Linked DNA regions of Homo sapiens. The protein of the gene in region 1 purifies or fractionates together with the protein of each later gene. This does not show direct contact. Each region holds a gene or a part of one and is shown in the gene's direction. Other genes may lie near its edges. The genes, in order: PHLPP1, FBXO22, COA1 and BUD23.

Region 1 (3,461 bases):
ATTGATTTAAATAGCATGCACACAGCTGAACTAAAGCCAGCAGATCTTGCCTTCTCCATTGGTCAACAGGAAATCAAGTTCAAGGAAGTTGTAAGAATTGGCATTTCTTCTTTAGCATCTGTTCTCCTGACATGAGCATTCTTACCCACCTAGTCAAACCAAGGTTTTCTCCACCGCTTAAGTACTTTCAAGTCCTCTCTGGACCTTTAGACACTACTGCCTCTTGTGATCATGGAGAGCAATGGAAGATTTAGGAGCATTGTCTTGATATATGCCTGCGTCATGTGTCTTTGCTCAGGACTGGCTTCTATCAGAAAGTCTCTTGCTACCTCAGAGTCTTCCTACACCCAGCCCGTCTGAGGGCCGATCCTTGATCACCATGTTCACCAAGGGAGGGAAGATGTAAACCCATGTTTACAGGAGGAGCTAGCCAGCTATGCTTGCTGTGTAAGGCTAGATGATGGCTTGCTTTAGATAAACAGCAGGACTTGTGACCTAGTGTGAATGGGGTCCCAGTAACACACATAACCGAAATCTTTTCCTTTTGTCCCTACTGCTCCTTACCTGCCCAGGCCTACTACCTGGGGTTTCTGATGACAGGTGCACATTAACTACTCACTACAGAGTGAGCCCTTCTTTCCTCTGTGGGCCACACAGCACTTCTCTGTGGTCCTACAGTCGAGACAGTCGAGGGACCCGCAGGGAACCTGCACAGTTGCCGCAGGTGCTCTGTATTAACTGTCTGTCTGCAAACCCTTGTTCTTCCAGGATGGCAAGGTGAACGGAGTGACTGAGTCCACGCGCATCCTGGGCTACACCTTCCTCCATCCCAGTGTGGTGCCTCGCCCCCACGTGCAGTCCGTGCTCCTGACTCCCCAGGATGAGTTCTTCATCCTAGGCAGTAAGGGGTTGTGGGACAGCCTGTCCGTCGAGGAGGCCGTGGAAGCCGTGCGCAACGTGCCCGATGCCCTGGCTGCTGCCAAGAAGCTGTGTACCCTGGCCCAGAGCTACGGCTGCCACGACAGCATCAGCGCTGTGGTGGTGCAGCTCAGTGTCACTGAGGACAGCTTCTGCTGCTGCGAGCTCAGCGCCGGTGGGGCTGTGCCACCACCCAGTCCTGGCATCTTTCCTCCCTCAGTGAACATGGTGATCAAGGATCGGCCCTCAGATGGGCTGGGCGTGCCGTCCTCCAGCAGCGGCATGGCTTCCGAGATTAGCAGTGAGCTCTCCACTTCTGAGATGAGCAGCGAGGTGGGGTCAACAGCCTCCGATGAGCCCCCGCCCGGAGCCCTAAGCGAGAACAGCCCTGCCTACCCCAGTGAGCAGCGCTGCATGCTCCACCCCATCTGTCTGTCCAACTCCTTCCAGCGCCAGCTATCCAGCGCCACGTTCTCTAGCGCCTTCTCCGACAACGGCCTTGACAGTGACGATGAGGAGCCCATCGAGGGCGTCTTCACCAACGGCAGCCGGGTGGAGGTGGAGGTGGACATCCACTGCAGCCGGGCCAAGGAGAAGGAGAAACAGCAGCACCTGCTTCAGGTGCCAGCAGAGGCCAGTGATGAGGGCATTGTCATCAGCGCCAACGAGGATGAGCCAGGTCTGCCCAGGAAGGCAGACTTCTCTGCCGTTGGGACCATTGGGCGCCGGAGGGCCAATGGCTCTGTTGCGCCCCAGGAAAGGAGCCACAATGTGATAGAGGTGGCTACAGACGCACCTCTTCGAAAGCCTGGAGGCTATTTTGCTGCCCCGGCTCAGCCGGATCCTGATGATCAGTTTATCATACCCCCGGAGCTGGAAGAGGAGGTCAAAGAAATCATGAAGCATCACCAGGAGCAACAGCAGCAGCAGCAGCCGCCACCACCCCCTCAGCTCCAGCCGCAGCTGCCGCGGCACTACCAGCTGGACCAGCTGCCAGATTATTACGACACGCCACTATGACCCAGCCGAGCTGTTTAACAAATAAACTAACCACAAAAGACTGAGTTGCAAGAGTCTCCCAGGCTCACATTAAACCAGGGGTTTTACTCCACATCCTTCCCCCAGACACTGTTCCCAACCTGTCATCGCAGCTAATCTGTAGGTTCTCTTTCTTTGGGTTATTTTTTTAAGTAATCACCACTTTCTTCTAGTGATGCTTTACCAATATGATTTACATTTGTTAACTTCTCCCCCTAACATATCAGATATGTAAAGACAAAGAACAAAAGGTTTAATATATTACAGAGAAACAGTTAATGATAATGTAATATTTTTTAAAATGGCTTTTTGTTGTTTGTTTGGAAGGCAGGGCAGGCTGCCGTTGCTAAATGATTTAATAATATTGTAATTCTGTATTTCTTTGGGGGGAAAAGGCTTTTGTTTTGTTTTGTTTTGTTTTGTTTTGTTTTTGTCTTGAAAATAATAGACATTTGTAGAATATGGAGACTAACTCCTAGGAGTTGCTTTACTCTGTCAGGTGACTTAAGTCACTGGGATTCACTAATTTTCTCTGAGAGAACAGCTGATTGAGAATTTCCATTGTAAATAGCTCAGTGTTGTATAGTGAGGCTTACGATGTTTTGTAGTCTTGGCGTAAGGACACAGCCCAAGTAACTGACGTTTCCCCTCCCCCTCCCCTCTGAGGAGCCTGCCTGCCTCACAACTCACCCTCACTTCACTGAATGAGGAGGCTGAGCAGCTGCAGTGTTTCTGTCCGGAGGAAATGGATCTTAGGCCACTGGACAAGAACCTGCACCCAAGGGCCCTGAACCCATTTTCCTCCCCTGTCCCAGCCTTCCCACTTTGACAGACACTTTTAACTGTGTTCCTTACTGCTGCCACAATCAGCATGGTTGTATAGTGCCCCATTAGGCCATTTACATACCCAGAGTTATACTCAAGCAGAATGCACAAATGGACATGTCATAATTTTTGTTACAATAAATATGAAATTTACAAGTATTTACAAGTATCTGCTTTTGTCTCAGCAGCCAGATGTTTCTTGGAGACAGTCACACTAGCTTGCGTTTAGAAAGAATGGATGGAATATTGGGGTTATCAGATATTTCTGATTTTTTTTTTAAGAGAAAAACATCCAGTAAGTTAACCTACATTGAATGAAATGTGAAATTAACCAAATGGTAAGCAGTATAATTAGCTGATCTTACAGCTTTTCTTTTCTTTTCTTTTCTTTTTTTTTTTTTTTTGAAATGGAGTCTCGCTCTGTCTCCCAGGCTGGAGTGCAGTGGTGTGTTCTCTGCCCACTGCAACCTCCGCCTCCCGGGTTCAAGTGATTCTCCTGCCTCAGCCTCTGAATAGCTGGCATTACAGGCACCCGCCACCATGCCCAGCCAATTTTTGTATTTTTAGTAAAGATGGGGTTTCACCATGTTGGCCAGGCTGGTCTCATACTCCTAACCTCAAGTGATCTGCCCACCTCAGCCTCCCAAAGTGCTAGGATTACAGGTGTGAGCCACTGTGCC
Region 2 (3,568 bases), on another chromosome or scaffold:
TCCTCGAAAGTGTTCTCTGGAGCATCGTTTATAATAAGGGATACTAAAAACCTAATGTTAATCTAATAAATAAAGCTATTAAATTATAGACTGCAAATGCATTAATGACAAGAGAAAATGTTGATTTTAAAAGTGAAAACAGATTATGAAATTATATATTTAGTATCATCTGAATTATTAAAGACAAAAAAGGGAGAGTAGAAAAGAAAGCCAAAATGTTAGCTTTTTTTTCCATTTACTGTTTTTAAAAAGTTTTCTATGGTTTTTAAAAAGTTTTCAAATTTTTACCACAGCAGGCATGATTTTTCTATAGCTTTAAGAGTTTATACATTGTAGTGGCTGTTAATAGCCAGACAGACTTAGTTGTGAACCATAGCTTTGGCATATACCAGCGGTGTGACTTTGAAAAAGCTACTCAACCTCTCTGAGCCTCAGGTGCTATCTCCATAAAATAAAAAGAAAAATAATAATTTTCCTATGCCCTTATAGAGTTGTTGTGAGGATTAAATAATGAAAAGGTAATGCATATAAACATTACTTACAATACCAGGAGCATAAGTTCTCAATAGATGTCTATTAAATATTCTTTTATTAGTATCATTATTAAAGTTCACATAGTTATAGTAATGCCCTTAGAGGAGTTCCTCCATTGTAGTAAACTGCTGGTGAGACAAAAACATGAAAACTCTATCCAAATCATACGTGCTGTTTATTTGTGTTTTCCAAGTTATCTAGTGGACATGGGTACTTTTATAGCCATAAAGAAAGTTGATTTAACTTTTCTATTAGAAATATTTTAAAGTCCGCCAGGCATGGTGGCTCATGCCTATAATCCCAGCACTTTGGAAAGCCGAGGCAGGCAAATCACTTGAGGTCAGGAGTTAGAGAACAGCCTGGCCAACATGGTGAAACCCCGTCTCCACTAAAAAAATATAAATATTTAAAAATATCAAATATATAAATAAAAATATTAAAGTACAAAAGTTGGCTGGGCATGTTAGTGCAAACCTATAATCGCAGCTACTTGGGTAGCTGAGGTACCAGAATCGCTTGAACCAGGGAGATGGAGTTTGCTTGAGCTGAGATTGCACCACTTCACTCCAGCCTGGGTGATAAAGAGTGAGACTGTGTCTCAAAAAAAAAAAATTTTTTTAAAGTCCACCAAAAGCTTTATAAAACAGCTTGCCATTTGTAACTTCTTTGAACAGTGGAATGTGGTGTCAGCTGTCTTAACTGTGCTTTGAGAACATTTCATATTGAGGCTTGTTATGTCACTACTTCTAGTGTGAATTAGGAAGGAAAATTCAGCAGTTGCTTTTCAGTGGATGCCTCATAAACTCTCAGGACCAGACTTTTAATACTTGTTCAGGAGTAAGAAACCTGAGGCCTAAAAGCTTGCTGAGGGTTATTCTGCTGGTTTGTGGCAGAGTTGCCACTAAGACCTAAATCTGTTTTTTGTTTTGTTTGGTTTTTTTTTTTTTTGAGACAGAGTCTCGCCTGTCGCCCAGGCTGGATTGCAGTGGCCCGATCTTGGCTCAGTGCAACCTCCACCTTCCTAGTTCAAGTGATTGTCCTGCCTCAGCCTCCTGAGTAGTTGGGACTACAGGCGCATGCAGCCATACCCGGTTACTTTTTGTATTTTTAGTAGAGATGGGGTTTCACCATGTTGGACAGGCTGGTCTCACCCTGGCCTCAGGCAATCCACCCACCGTGGCCTCCCAAAGTGCTGATATTACAGGCGTGAGCCACTGTGCCTTGCCCGTAAATCTCTTTTTCTGTCTCCTTTACTCACTATACCAGGCATCACAGATTCAGATGACTCGAAGGTCAGGCAGGTAGCTGAAGAGGGTCAGGTAGCTCAATAGTCGTAGCACCATGGCAGTCTGGAAAGGCTTGCCTCCGTTTAGCCTTAGTTAAGAGGCACGTAGTCTAAGTGTTGCCAAAATGTCCAGTTTTTAAAAAGAATCTGGAAATCCACATTTTATGTAAAAATTCGGTGGAATTTTGAACATTGGCATTCAGTTTACATTTTCTGAAAATGCTGTGTGGACCAAGGAAACTATATCCGTAGGTCTTGGGCAGCCCTGGGCCCCACAGGCCATCATGCTATCTGTCTCTTTTATTAGTTTATCTATGTAGAATGTATTCTGAAACATCTTGGCATTCCCTCAAATTATAATGGACCAACTTTTTTTTTCCATTTAACTAACAATGAGGCTTTGCTATATCCTAAGTACTTCATTTTATTCTGGTAGTAAAAAATATTTGAAAATAGCTAGCTTGGAAAAATATATCATCCTTTTCATTTAATTCAGCTGCTTTGCCGCTTGTCTTCAATTGGAAAGTTTAGTTGAAAACAGGTGAGTCTGAATAAGCCCAGCTCATAGGGGAGATAGGGGACAAATAAGATTAACTAGGGGTAAGGGATGTTGCATCTGAGGTCCAGAGTACTGAGGGAGTTTAGGAAAAGGTTTTGGAGAGGAGGTGGCACTTAAGGTGTCTCTAGAGGGAAACAGTCTTAAGTTCCACAAGAACAGAGCAATAGAACATATGGGGAAGTCGGTGTGTCTGGATAATATTAATAGTAAGCTAAGGGGCCCTGAAGGAAGCCTTGCTGGCAAGCCTGGAAATGGAGGCTTGGAGTATTTGATTTGATAAGCAGTGAAAAGGGAGTGATACAGCCTGTATACCTTCCCCAGTGCTGAGATTTTTCTGATACTGTGATGCCTGTTCAAATAAAGCAAGTGCATCTTTTGCTGGTACTTGATGTTTTTGTTCTAAGAGCTTCAGTTATCATTATGAAAATGAACTTTTTGAGGGCTGGAATGAAGAAATTATAGGTGTTTAGTAAATGAACTGAAAATGAAAGAGCATGAGTGAAAAGTAAATGAGAAGTAGATTGACTCAGAATGCCAACATTGACCTGAAAGAAGGTAGGGTACCAGCAGTTTGGATGGGGTGATACTTTTTTTTTTTTTTAAATTTCTGCGATACATGTGCAGAACATGCAGGTTTGTTACATAGGTATACACGTGCCATGGTGGTTTGCTGCACCCATCAACCCGTCATCTACATTAGGTATTTCTCCTAATGCTATCCCTTCCCTAATCTCCCACTCCCTGACAGGCCCTGGTGTGTGATGTTCCCTTCCCTGTGTCCATGTGTTTTCATTGTTCAACTCCCACTTATGAATGAGAACATGCAGCATTTGGTTTTCTGTTCCTGTGTTAGTTTGCTGAAAATGATGGTTTCCAGCTTCATCCATGTCCCTGCAAAGGACATGAGTGCATCCTTTTTCTATGGCTGCATAGTGTTCCATGGTGTATCTGTGCCACATTTTCTTCATCCAGTCTATCACTGATGGGCATTTGAGTTGGTTTCAAGTCTTTGCTATTGTGAATAGTGCTGCAGTAAACATGCATATGCATGTGTCTTTATAGTAGAATGATTTATAATCCTTTGGGTATATACCCAGTAATGGGATTGCTGGGCCAAATGGTATTTCTCTTTCTAGATCCTTGAGGAATCACCACACTGTCTTCCACAATGGTTGAACTAATTTGCACTC
Region 3 (3,568 bases), on another chromosome or scaffold:
GGGCAGCTGATTATTAGAACTTACAGCTTCAGGGAGGTGCTTCCCGGAGTTCCCAGGTAGCCTGTGGGCTCAGAAGGATTCCTGAGACTGAGAGCAGTTTGAGTTGAAATGTTGGCTTAAATCTTGATGAATGAACATTTTCATATCCTGTTTCTAGGCCTGAGGGTTTTGTTGTTAATGTTGTGGTCTTTCTATTTTATGTCTCAACTTAGTGGAACAGGCAGTGTTGAGAAGTCAGGTATCATGGATTCTGGCCTCGGCTTTGCCATGGACCAGCTGTGTCACTTTGAACAAGTCATGGAATCATAGTAGGACTTTAGAGCAAACTTAGAGACTTGAGAGGAAACTTAGAGAAGAGCTGACCAAACCTCTTAGGTGTCAAAATAAGGCAATGAGTGAGGGTAGAAATGAGGTGAAGCAGAAAGGGTCTGCATGAGGTCAAGGCCCAAGGTCATCTGCACATCCCTGCAAAACACTGCCTGCCTGTGCTTTGGTTTTTGAGTCTGTAAAATGGACAATTTAGAGTAGATGGCCTTAATTATTCGTCCATCCACAGATTTCACGTTTCTGTTTCTACCCTGTACGTCAGTTGGATTATTTAATTTTCTGTGTAGTAGATTCTACCTGACCAAGTTCAATAAAGAAAATAAGTGTGTCTTTCGTCCTTAGAGTTTCATTCCAGGGCTTTATATTACAAGTTGGCAGTGGAGCAGCTGCAGAGCCATCCCGAGGCACAGGAAGCTCTGGGCCCTCCTCTCAACATCCATTATCTCAAGCTCATCGACAGGGAAAACTTCGTGGACATTGTTGATGCCAAGGTAATGTGCTTTCCCTGCGAACCGCAGGCTGGTGCCTGCTGAAGGAGAGGAGAGTCTACTGTCTCCTGGAAAGTCCTGGAGTTAAGGATTTGGGATGGGAAAATCCACTAAGTAAAGCTAGGTTTGGCACCTTTAAAAAAAGTTTTTCTATTATGGATTTTAATGTTTATATAAAATATATTTTATATTATAGATATTTCTGTATACTTTTCTTCCATTCTGGGGAATTGATGTGGCAGGGAATGCAGTGGGTATGCTGATGTCGCCATCTTGAATTGAAGGTAGTAGAGAAATGACCAGTGGTGGTTTGCTACCATGTTGGCTTTGATAGCTCTCAGCACTTTGGGAGGCTGAGGTAAGAGGATTGCTTGAGCCCTGGGGTTTGAAACCAGCCTGGGCAACACAGCAAGACCCTGTCTCTCTCTCTCTCTCTCTCTCTCTCTCTCTCTCTGTCTCTCTGCCTGCCTGCCTGCCTGCCTGCCTGCCTGCCTATCTATCTATCTATCTATCTATCTATCTATCTATCTATCTATCTATCTAATCTATCTATCTATAATTTAGCCAGGCGTGATAGTGCACACCTATAATCCCAGCTACCCAGGAGGCTGAAGCAGGAGGATCGCTTGAACCCAGGAGTTGGAGGCTGCAATGAGTTATGATCATGTCACTGCACTCCATCCTGGGTGACAGAGTGAAATTGTCTGTAAAATTAAAAAAAAAAGAGAAATGCATCTATATCCAGTCAGTGCTCATTCAAATGTACCCAACTCTTTAAACTTTGATTTTTAAAGTGTATTTATTTACATTGCTTCCACAGAATACCAACCCATTTTTTTAGCTATAACTTATCTTTTTGTACTTGATCACACTCACTTGCATGTAAAACACATTTGTTCTGTTTAACAAACATATTTTGAGTATATGCTCTGGTTTGAGAAATGATTCTAAGCTATGTGGGGAATAGAGGTGCAGAAGGCTTTTGGGGGTTTACAGTTGAAAATTCCTGAGTAAGACAGGGTGAGGGAAACCCTGTCACTATTGTGCAGGCCTAGGGGAAGTGGCTCGAGGCCTGGGAGATGGCTGTGAGGACTTTGAAAGGTGGAGAGGAACACCCGGCTGAGGAGCAGCATGCCTGGGAAAGTTCATCACTGTGTCGCCTGTCAGTGTGATACGGCAGTGGAGGCACAGGTGGGCGAGGTGGGTGTGGGCAGGTAGGAGGGGCTGCGGCCACCAGGGGCCACAGTGTCATCTTGGAAGGTGTGTGCTTGACTCTGGCAGCAGAAGCCCGTAAAGTATTTGGAGGATGAGTGAGGTGATCCGACCTACATTATTTTTTGTTATTTTTAGTATGTTCTTAATGGACCCAGCTCTAATGAGACTTTTTTCTAACTACAAAAGCAATTCATGCTCTGGTATTCTGATTAAAATATTCGGTTTTAAAAGAAGGTGGATTTGTGTAGATTGGTAATGCCCAGGGACTGGCTACGGGGAGCCATCTTTAGGAGAGAGATGTGGCCACACTGGTGTGCAGTGGTGAGAGCATGAACCAGAGGTGTGGCCTGGAGAAGCAAAAGACGGATGTGAAGCCATCGTGGCATCCAAGTGACAGAACTTGGTAACAGTCATGTATCAGGAGCGGGTGGGTCAGAGGTGATGGTCCAGTGTCCAGCATGGACGTGAGTGGAAGGACGGCAGCGACACTGCGTGAGAGAGGACATCCTGGAGGAGGAGCACAGGGAAGGGCTGGGCATGTGTGGAGTGCTCACTCTGTGCCAGGCCACCGGATTGCTCCCATGGTGTGGCGGAGCCTGTCTGTTGCTTCCTTGCCTTTGGTCACTTGGCTAGACCCCAGCAATCCTGAGAACTTGGAAAAGCCACTGGGTAGGTCTGGCTGTTGCGTTTCTCTCAGCACAGAGCCCAGCTGTAGCACTGAGGAATTGTGTGCCAAAGGCGCCTTTGCTGGGGCTGGTTGATGCAGCATCCATGATCTGGTGCTCCAGGAACCCCAGTGAGAGTAGGGTAAGGCCATGGTGGTTTTGGTGGGAGCTTTGTCCTGTCCAGCTTTCACTTTGGCCCCAGTGGTGCTGAGAGGGCGCCTTCCTGGGCTTCCCCACATCCCTGGGGCCTTGGCCATGCTGTGACTATGTTGGTTGTGGTGCTAGGTTCTGGCTTCTACTGCGGCCAAATGCTGTGACTCTGCAGTGACAGGAGTTCAGAGTCTGCTGCATCATGGCCACCTGGAGCCTCAGTGCACGCCTTCCAATTTGTGGACTATTTTTGACATTCTGTCAGGGTCCTTTCTTTATAATCAGCGGTTTGTGAGGATGCCTGTATACAGCATATGCCCTCTTATCCCAAATTCCTTTATTTGCAATTTTTACAGTTTTTCCAGAGGTGAGATGTTTCAGTTGTTCATGAAGTAATTGTCATACATTGGGATTTTTTCCCAAGTATGTGTGTGAGATAGTCACCAGTGACCAACACTTTGCTTTACCAGAACTCCTGCTTTAATCTTTGGCAAGGTCTGGCTGGTGAAGGAACCAACCTGTAAAGTGTCACATCTACCCATGGAAGCACAGCTGCCCACAGTTCAGACATTGGCCCCTCAGAGTTTGCTCTTCTTCAGAATCCTTCTTGCTTCTGCCCATTTCTTTCTCCTTCCTTTTTAAATTTTTTTTTAAAGCATCCAGAGATGCTCAGTGTATACTCTGTTGCTTAATTCTATAATTTCCAGAGAAAAGCTGTAGCTT
Region 4 (3,568 bases), on another chromosome or scaffold:
GCTTACTGCAACCTCTGCCTCCCAGGTTCAAGTGATTCTTCTGCCTCAGCCACCTGAGCAGCTGGTATTCAAGGCACATGCCACCAAGCCCAGCTAATTTTTGTATTTTTAGTAGAGACGGGGTTTCACCGTGTTGGTCAGGCTGGTCTCGAACTCCTGACCTCAAGTGATCCACCCATCTCAGCCTCCCAAAATGCTGGGATTACGGGTATGAGCCAATGCACCTGGCTGCTTGAGGTTTTAAATCTGGGGGTTGTAAAGACACTTAACAGGTAGAGTGGAAGGGAGTGATTTAGGAGGAAGGGTGATGGGATGGCTGTGTGTATGTGAGTAGTCTAAAGCCTGTTTCCTTGGATTGGAGGAAGGGAACAAGGAGGGGTGTGTGGGCAGACAGCCTTGACACGGAGGACTTTTCAACTCAAGATGCAGATGGAAACAAGGTGGAGGAAAGGTTTCTTGGGACTATGGGACATAAATGCTGTCCTTCTGTATGTCCTATTTTTCCAGTGTTGTAGAGTCATGACCTGCAGTGGACCTGCACTTTTTTTGTCTTTAAATTTTTAAATTTAAAAATACTTTAAGTAAAGATGGGGTCTTGCTATGTTGTCCAGGCTGGTTTGAAGTCCTGGCCTCAGGCAATTCTGTCTTGGCCTCAGAAAGTGCTGGGATTACAGGGCGTTGAACCACTGTACGTGGCCTCAACCTGCACTTTCTAAGAAGGGAAGCTGTGGGAGGAGGGGTTTCTCTTGGAGAGCCAGGACGGATGATGTCAAGAGGCTTGAAGTGGTTGGGGGAGCAACGTGGATTGCTCCGTTGCCTGACTAGGTCCCTTCCTTTTTAGCATTTCTGCTGTGCAGTGGCTCTGTAATGCTAACAAGAAGTCTGAAAACCCTGCCAAGCGCCTGTACTGCTTTTTTGCTTCTCTTTTTTCTGTTCTCGTGAGTATAAGATCTTCTCCCCATCTGGGTTAGCTGCCTGTCCCTCCCTAGCACTGCAGGTAGAGTGAGGAAATTGAGGTGTCCCATGATGGGTAAGCTACTCATATGGGACCGCATGGGGTGGCAGGACCTTACTGTGGTTACTTCTGTCCAGGTCCTCAGCCTAAATGGAAGTTCAAGCTCAGTGGACTGATATACTCTAATCAAACCCAGAAGTCACTGATACCAAAATCGGAGACCAATTTATTAACTTGTAATAGGGCCTACTTCTGTTGATTGGTATTCCTATGTCTATTGCGCTGAGTTTTAATCAGAAGTTGGTTTGGGGGCATGGACTGAGCAGAGTGAGGACAGAGATGTCGTGTCCGGACCATCCAGAGGGGTACCTTCCAAAGTGCCCACATCCTTCTGACTCCTCACTTATCCCTCCTCCTAGTGCTGATCCTTTTCTTCGGATGAGGAACAGGATAGTTATTTACTGCAAAGAGAGCCTTTATTAGCTTTGTCTTCAAATTAATGATGTTAATTTCAGTTGTTCACTAGGATTAGCTGATAGTCTGAGATTTTAAGTCCTAAAAATGAGTTCTTTTTAAATTTTGTTTTTTGAGACAGACTTTTGCTTTGTTGCCTGGGATGGAGTGCAATGGTGTGATCGTAGCTCACTGCGCCCTCGAACTCCTGGGCTCAAGTGATCCTCCTGCTTCAGCTTCTCAAGTAGTTTGGACTACAGGCACACACCACCATGCCAGGCTAATTTTTTACTTTTTTTTTTTTAAGAGATGGGGTCTACCTATGTTGCCCAGGCTGGTGTTAAACTCCTGGCTTCAAGCAATTGTCTGGCATCAGGCTCCCAAAGTGATGGGATTATAGGCGTAAGCCACTGTGCCCAGCTTAAAAATGAGTCCGTTTTGAAGGATCTGAGTGGTTTTTGCCTCCTTAGCCTGGTCTAGCCCACCCCTAGTTTTCCTGGGGTGGACTGCACCTGCCGATCTGGCCACTGGTCTTTCTTGGGGTGAACTGCCCCTGCTGATGTGGCCGCTGGTCTTTCCTGGGGTGAACTGCCCCTGCTGATGTGGCCGCTGGCCTTTCCTGGGGTGGACTGCGCCTGCCTATCTGGCCGCTGGTCTTGTGTGTCACATGAGTTCTCCTCCTGGCACACTGGGTTAATATTTTAGTTCTGAGGTCCTTTGTGTTTCCTCTTCTCCCTGCTGGAAGGCTCCTCCCTTATATGTTTAAATAGCCAGCTCCTCACTCCATTCAAATCTCTGCTCAAGTATCCATTTGAAACAGGCCTTTTTGGAACCAAAAGTAAACTGAACTGAAAGGAAACTCTGTCACTTTGTCTAATTCCTCTTTTTGTAACAAAGAAAAAATTTGCTACTGTGAATTAGTTGCCTCCTTTACTAAAATGTGAGCTCCAAAGTTCAGGGTGATCTCTTTTGTTCATACTATCCCCAGCCCTAACAATGCCTCACACATAATGGAAATTCAGGAAATACTTGGTGAATGAAGGAAGAGAGGGGTGTCCAGGCCCTAAGCTCATGCAGTCATTTGTAAGACAGTGATGTTCCTGTTTCTTTCAGGTCCGGGGATCCCGAGCTGTCCTGCAGCTGTACCCTGAGAACTCAGAGCAGGTGAGTCCCTCGGCTACTGGGTGTGCCGGGGAGTTGGGGGACTCAACAGGTAAGCTGTCCTGGGGAAGCGACAAAGAATCTTATGCAGATTGGCGGGAAAAGGAGGAAACATGCACCCTAGTGTGGCCCCTGATGGCACATTTGATGACCTGATATCCTAAGGGGGTGGCATCTGCGGAGGTGGGGTGGGATGCCTTCTCTTGGCAGATGACATGGTATTACAGATAAGGTGATGCGACTGATTTCCATAACCAAATAAGTAAATGCCATTTAGGAAGGGTGAGAGGGCACCGACAGTTCTCCGTTGTGTGATGTATAAATTAAGGAATGGCGGAGTAGGATGTAGATGTTGAAAGATAAGTGAAGAGCTGTTCCTGACTAATAACATGAATGACTCTGGATTCCAATTGGTGGCCATCTCCCTAAACTTGAGTGGGGAGCTGGGTCCCTGCACTGGAAAGTGAGAATGAGGGGAGTTGCTTTGTTCTGTAATTCTCCTGAGGGAGGTGTGGGCCATGCCAGATTCTAGCCTGTACTTTTCTCTACGTGGCTTACAGCGACCTTAAGTTCTCCCAGGCAGGATTTGTCCTGGAGCAGACTGGCTTCTGAAGGAGGGGAGGGAGGTGAAGCTGTCTGCTCCTCTCAACCTCCGCTGCCTGACCCGCTGCCTTTCTTTCCTCAGTTGGAGCTGATCACAACCCAGGCCACAAAGGCAGGCTTCTCCGGTGGCATGGTGGTAGACTACCCTAACAGTGCCAAAGCAAAGAAGTGAGCGCTGGGGGCCGGTGTGCTGCCTGGGCTGCAGGAGGGAGGGTAGTGGCATAGCCCTTTCAGGCCACTCAGTGGTGCAGAGGAGTGCTGGGGTGTGGGTCACCAGGGTCCAGGCAGGCGGAGGGGGTGCGGGTGGGGGAGCTGAGGGCTTGTCTCCCTGTGGGGCTTTCTCCACCCAACCCTCACTTTGCACTTTCTCCTTTCAGATTCTACCTCTGCTTGTTT

Evidence for each region.
Region 2: the proteins of PHLPP1 (region 1) and FBXO22 purify together in Homo sapiens (affinity purification with western blotting; one study listed by BioGRID). This does not show direct contact.
Region 3: the proteins of PHLPP1 (region 1) and COA1 purify together in Homo sapiens (affinity purification with mass spectrometry, with the first as the bait; one large-scale study listed by BioGRID). This does not show direct contact.
Region 4: the proteins of PHLPP1 (region 1) and BUD23 fractionate together in Homo sapiens (co-fractionation; one large-scale study listed by BioGRID). This does not show direct contact.

Annotation. Positions count from the first base shown.
Region 1 is NC_000018.10:62,977,494-62,980,954, forward strand, and holds the end of PHLPP1 (PH domain leucine-rich repeat-containing protein phosphatase 1), read left to right. Parts: intron 1-768; coding exon 769-1,938; 3' UTR 1,939-2,940; downstream 2,941-3,461. UniProt on the Homo sapiens protein: Protein phosphatase involved in regulation of Akt and PKC signaling.
Region 2 is NC_000015.10:75,906,810-75,910,377, forward strand, and holds part of FBXO22 (F-box only protein 22), read left to right. Parts: intron 1-3,568. UniProt on the Homo sapiens protein: Substrate-recognition component of the SCF (SKP1-CUL1-F-box protein)-type E3 ubiquitin ligase complex that is implicated in the control of various cellular processes such as cell cycle control, transcriptional regulation, DNA damage repair, and apoptosis.
Region 3 is NC_000007.14:43,642,501-43,646,068, reverse strand, and holds part of COA1 (cytochrome c oxidase assembly factor 1 homolog), read left to right. Parts: intron 1-669; coding exon 670-818; exon of another isoform or gene 819-823; intron 824-3,568. UniProt on the Homo sapiens protein: Component of the MITRAC (mitochondrial translation regulation assembly intermediate of cytochrome c oxidase complex) complex, that regulates cytochrome c oxidase assembly.
Region 4 is NC_000007.14:73,690,075-73,693,642, forward strand, and holds part of BUD23 (18S rRNA (guanine-N(7))-methyltransferase), read left to right. Parts: intron 1-841; coding exon 842-938; intron 939-2,521; coding exon 2,522-2,572; intron 2,573-3,254; coding exon 3,255-3,340; intron 3,341-3,549; coding exon 3,550-3,568.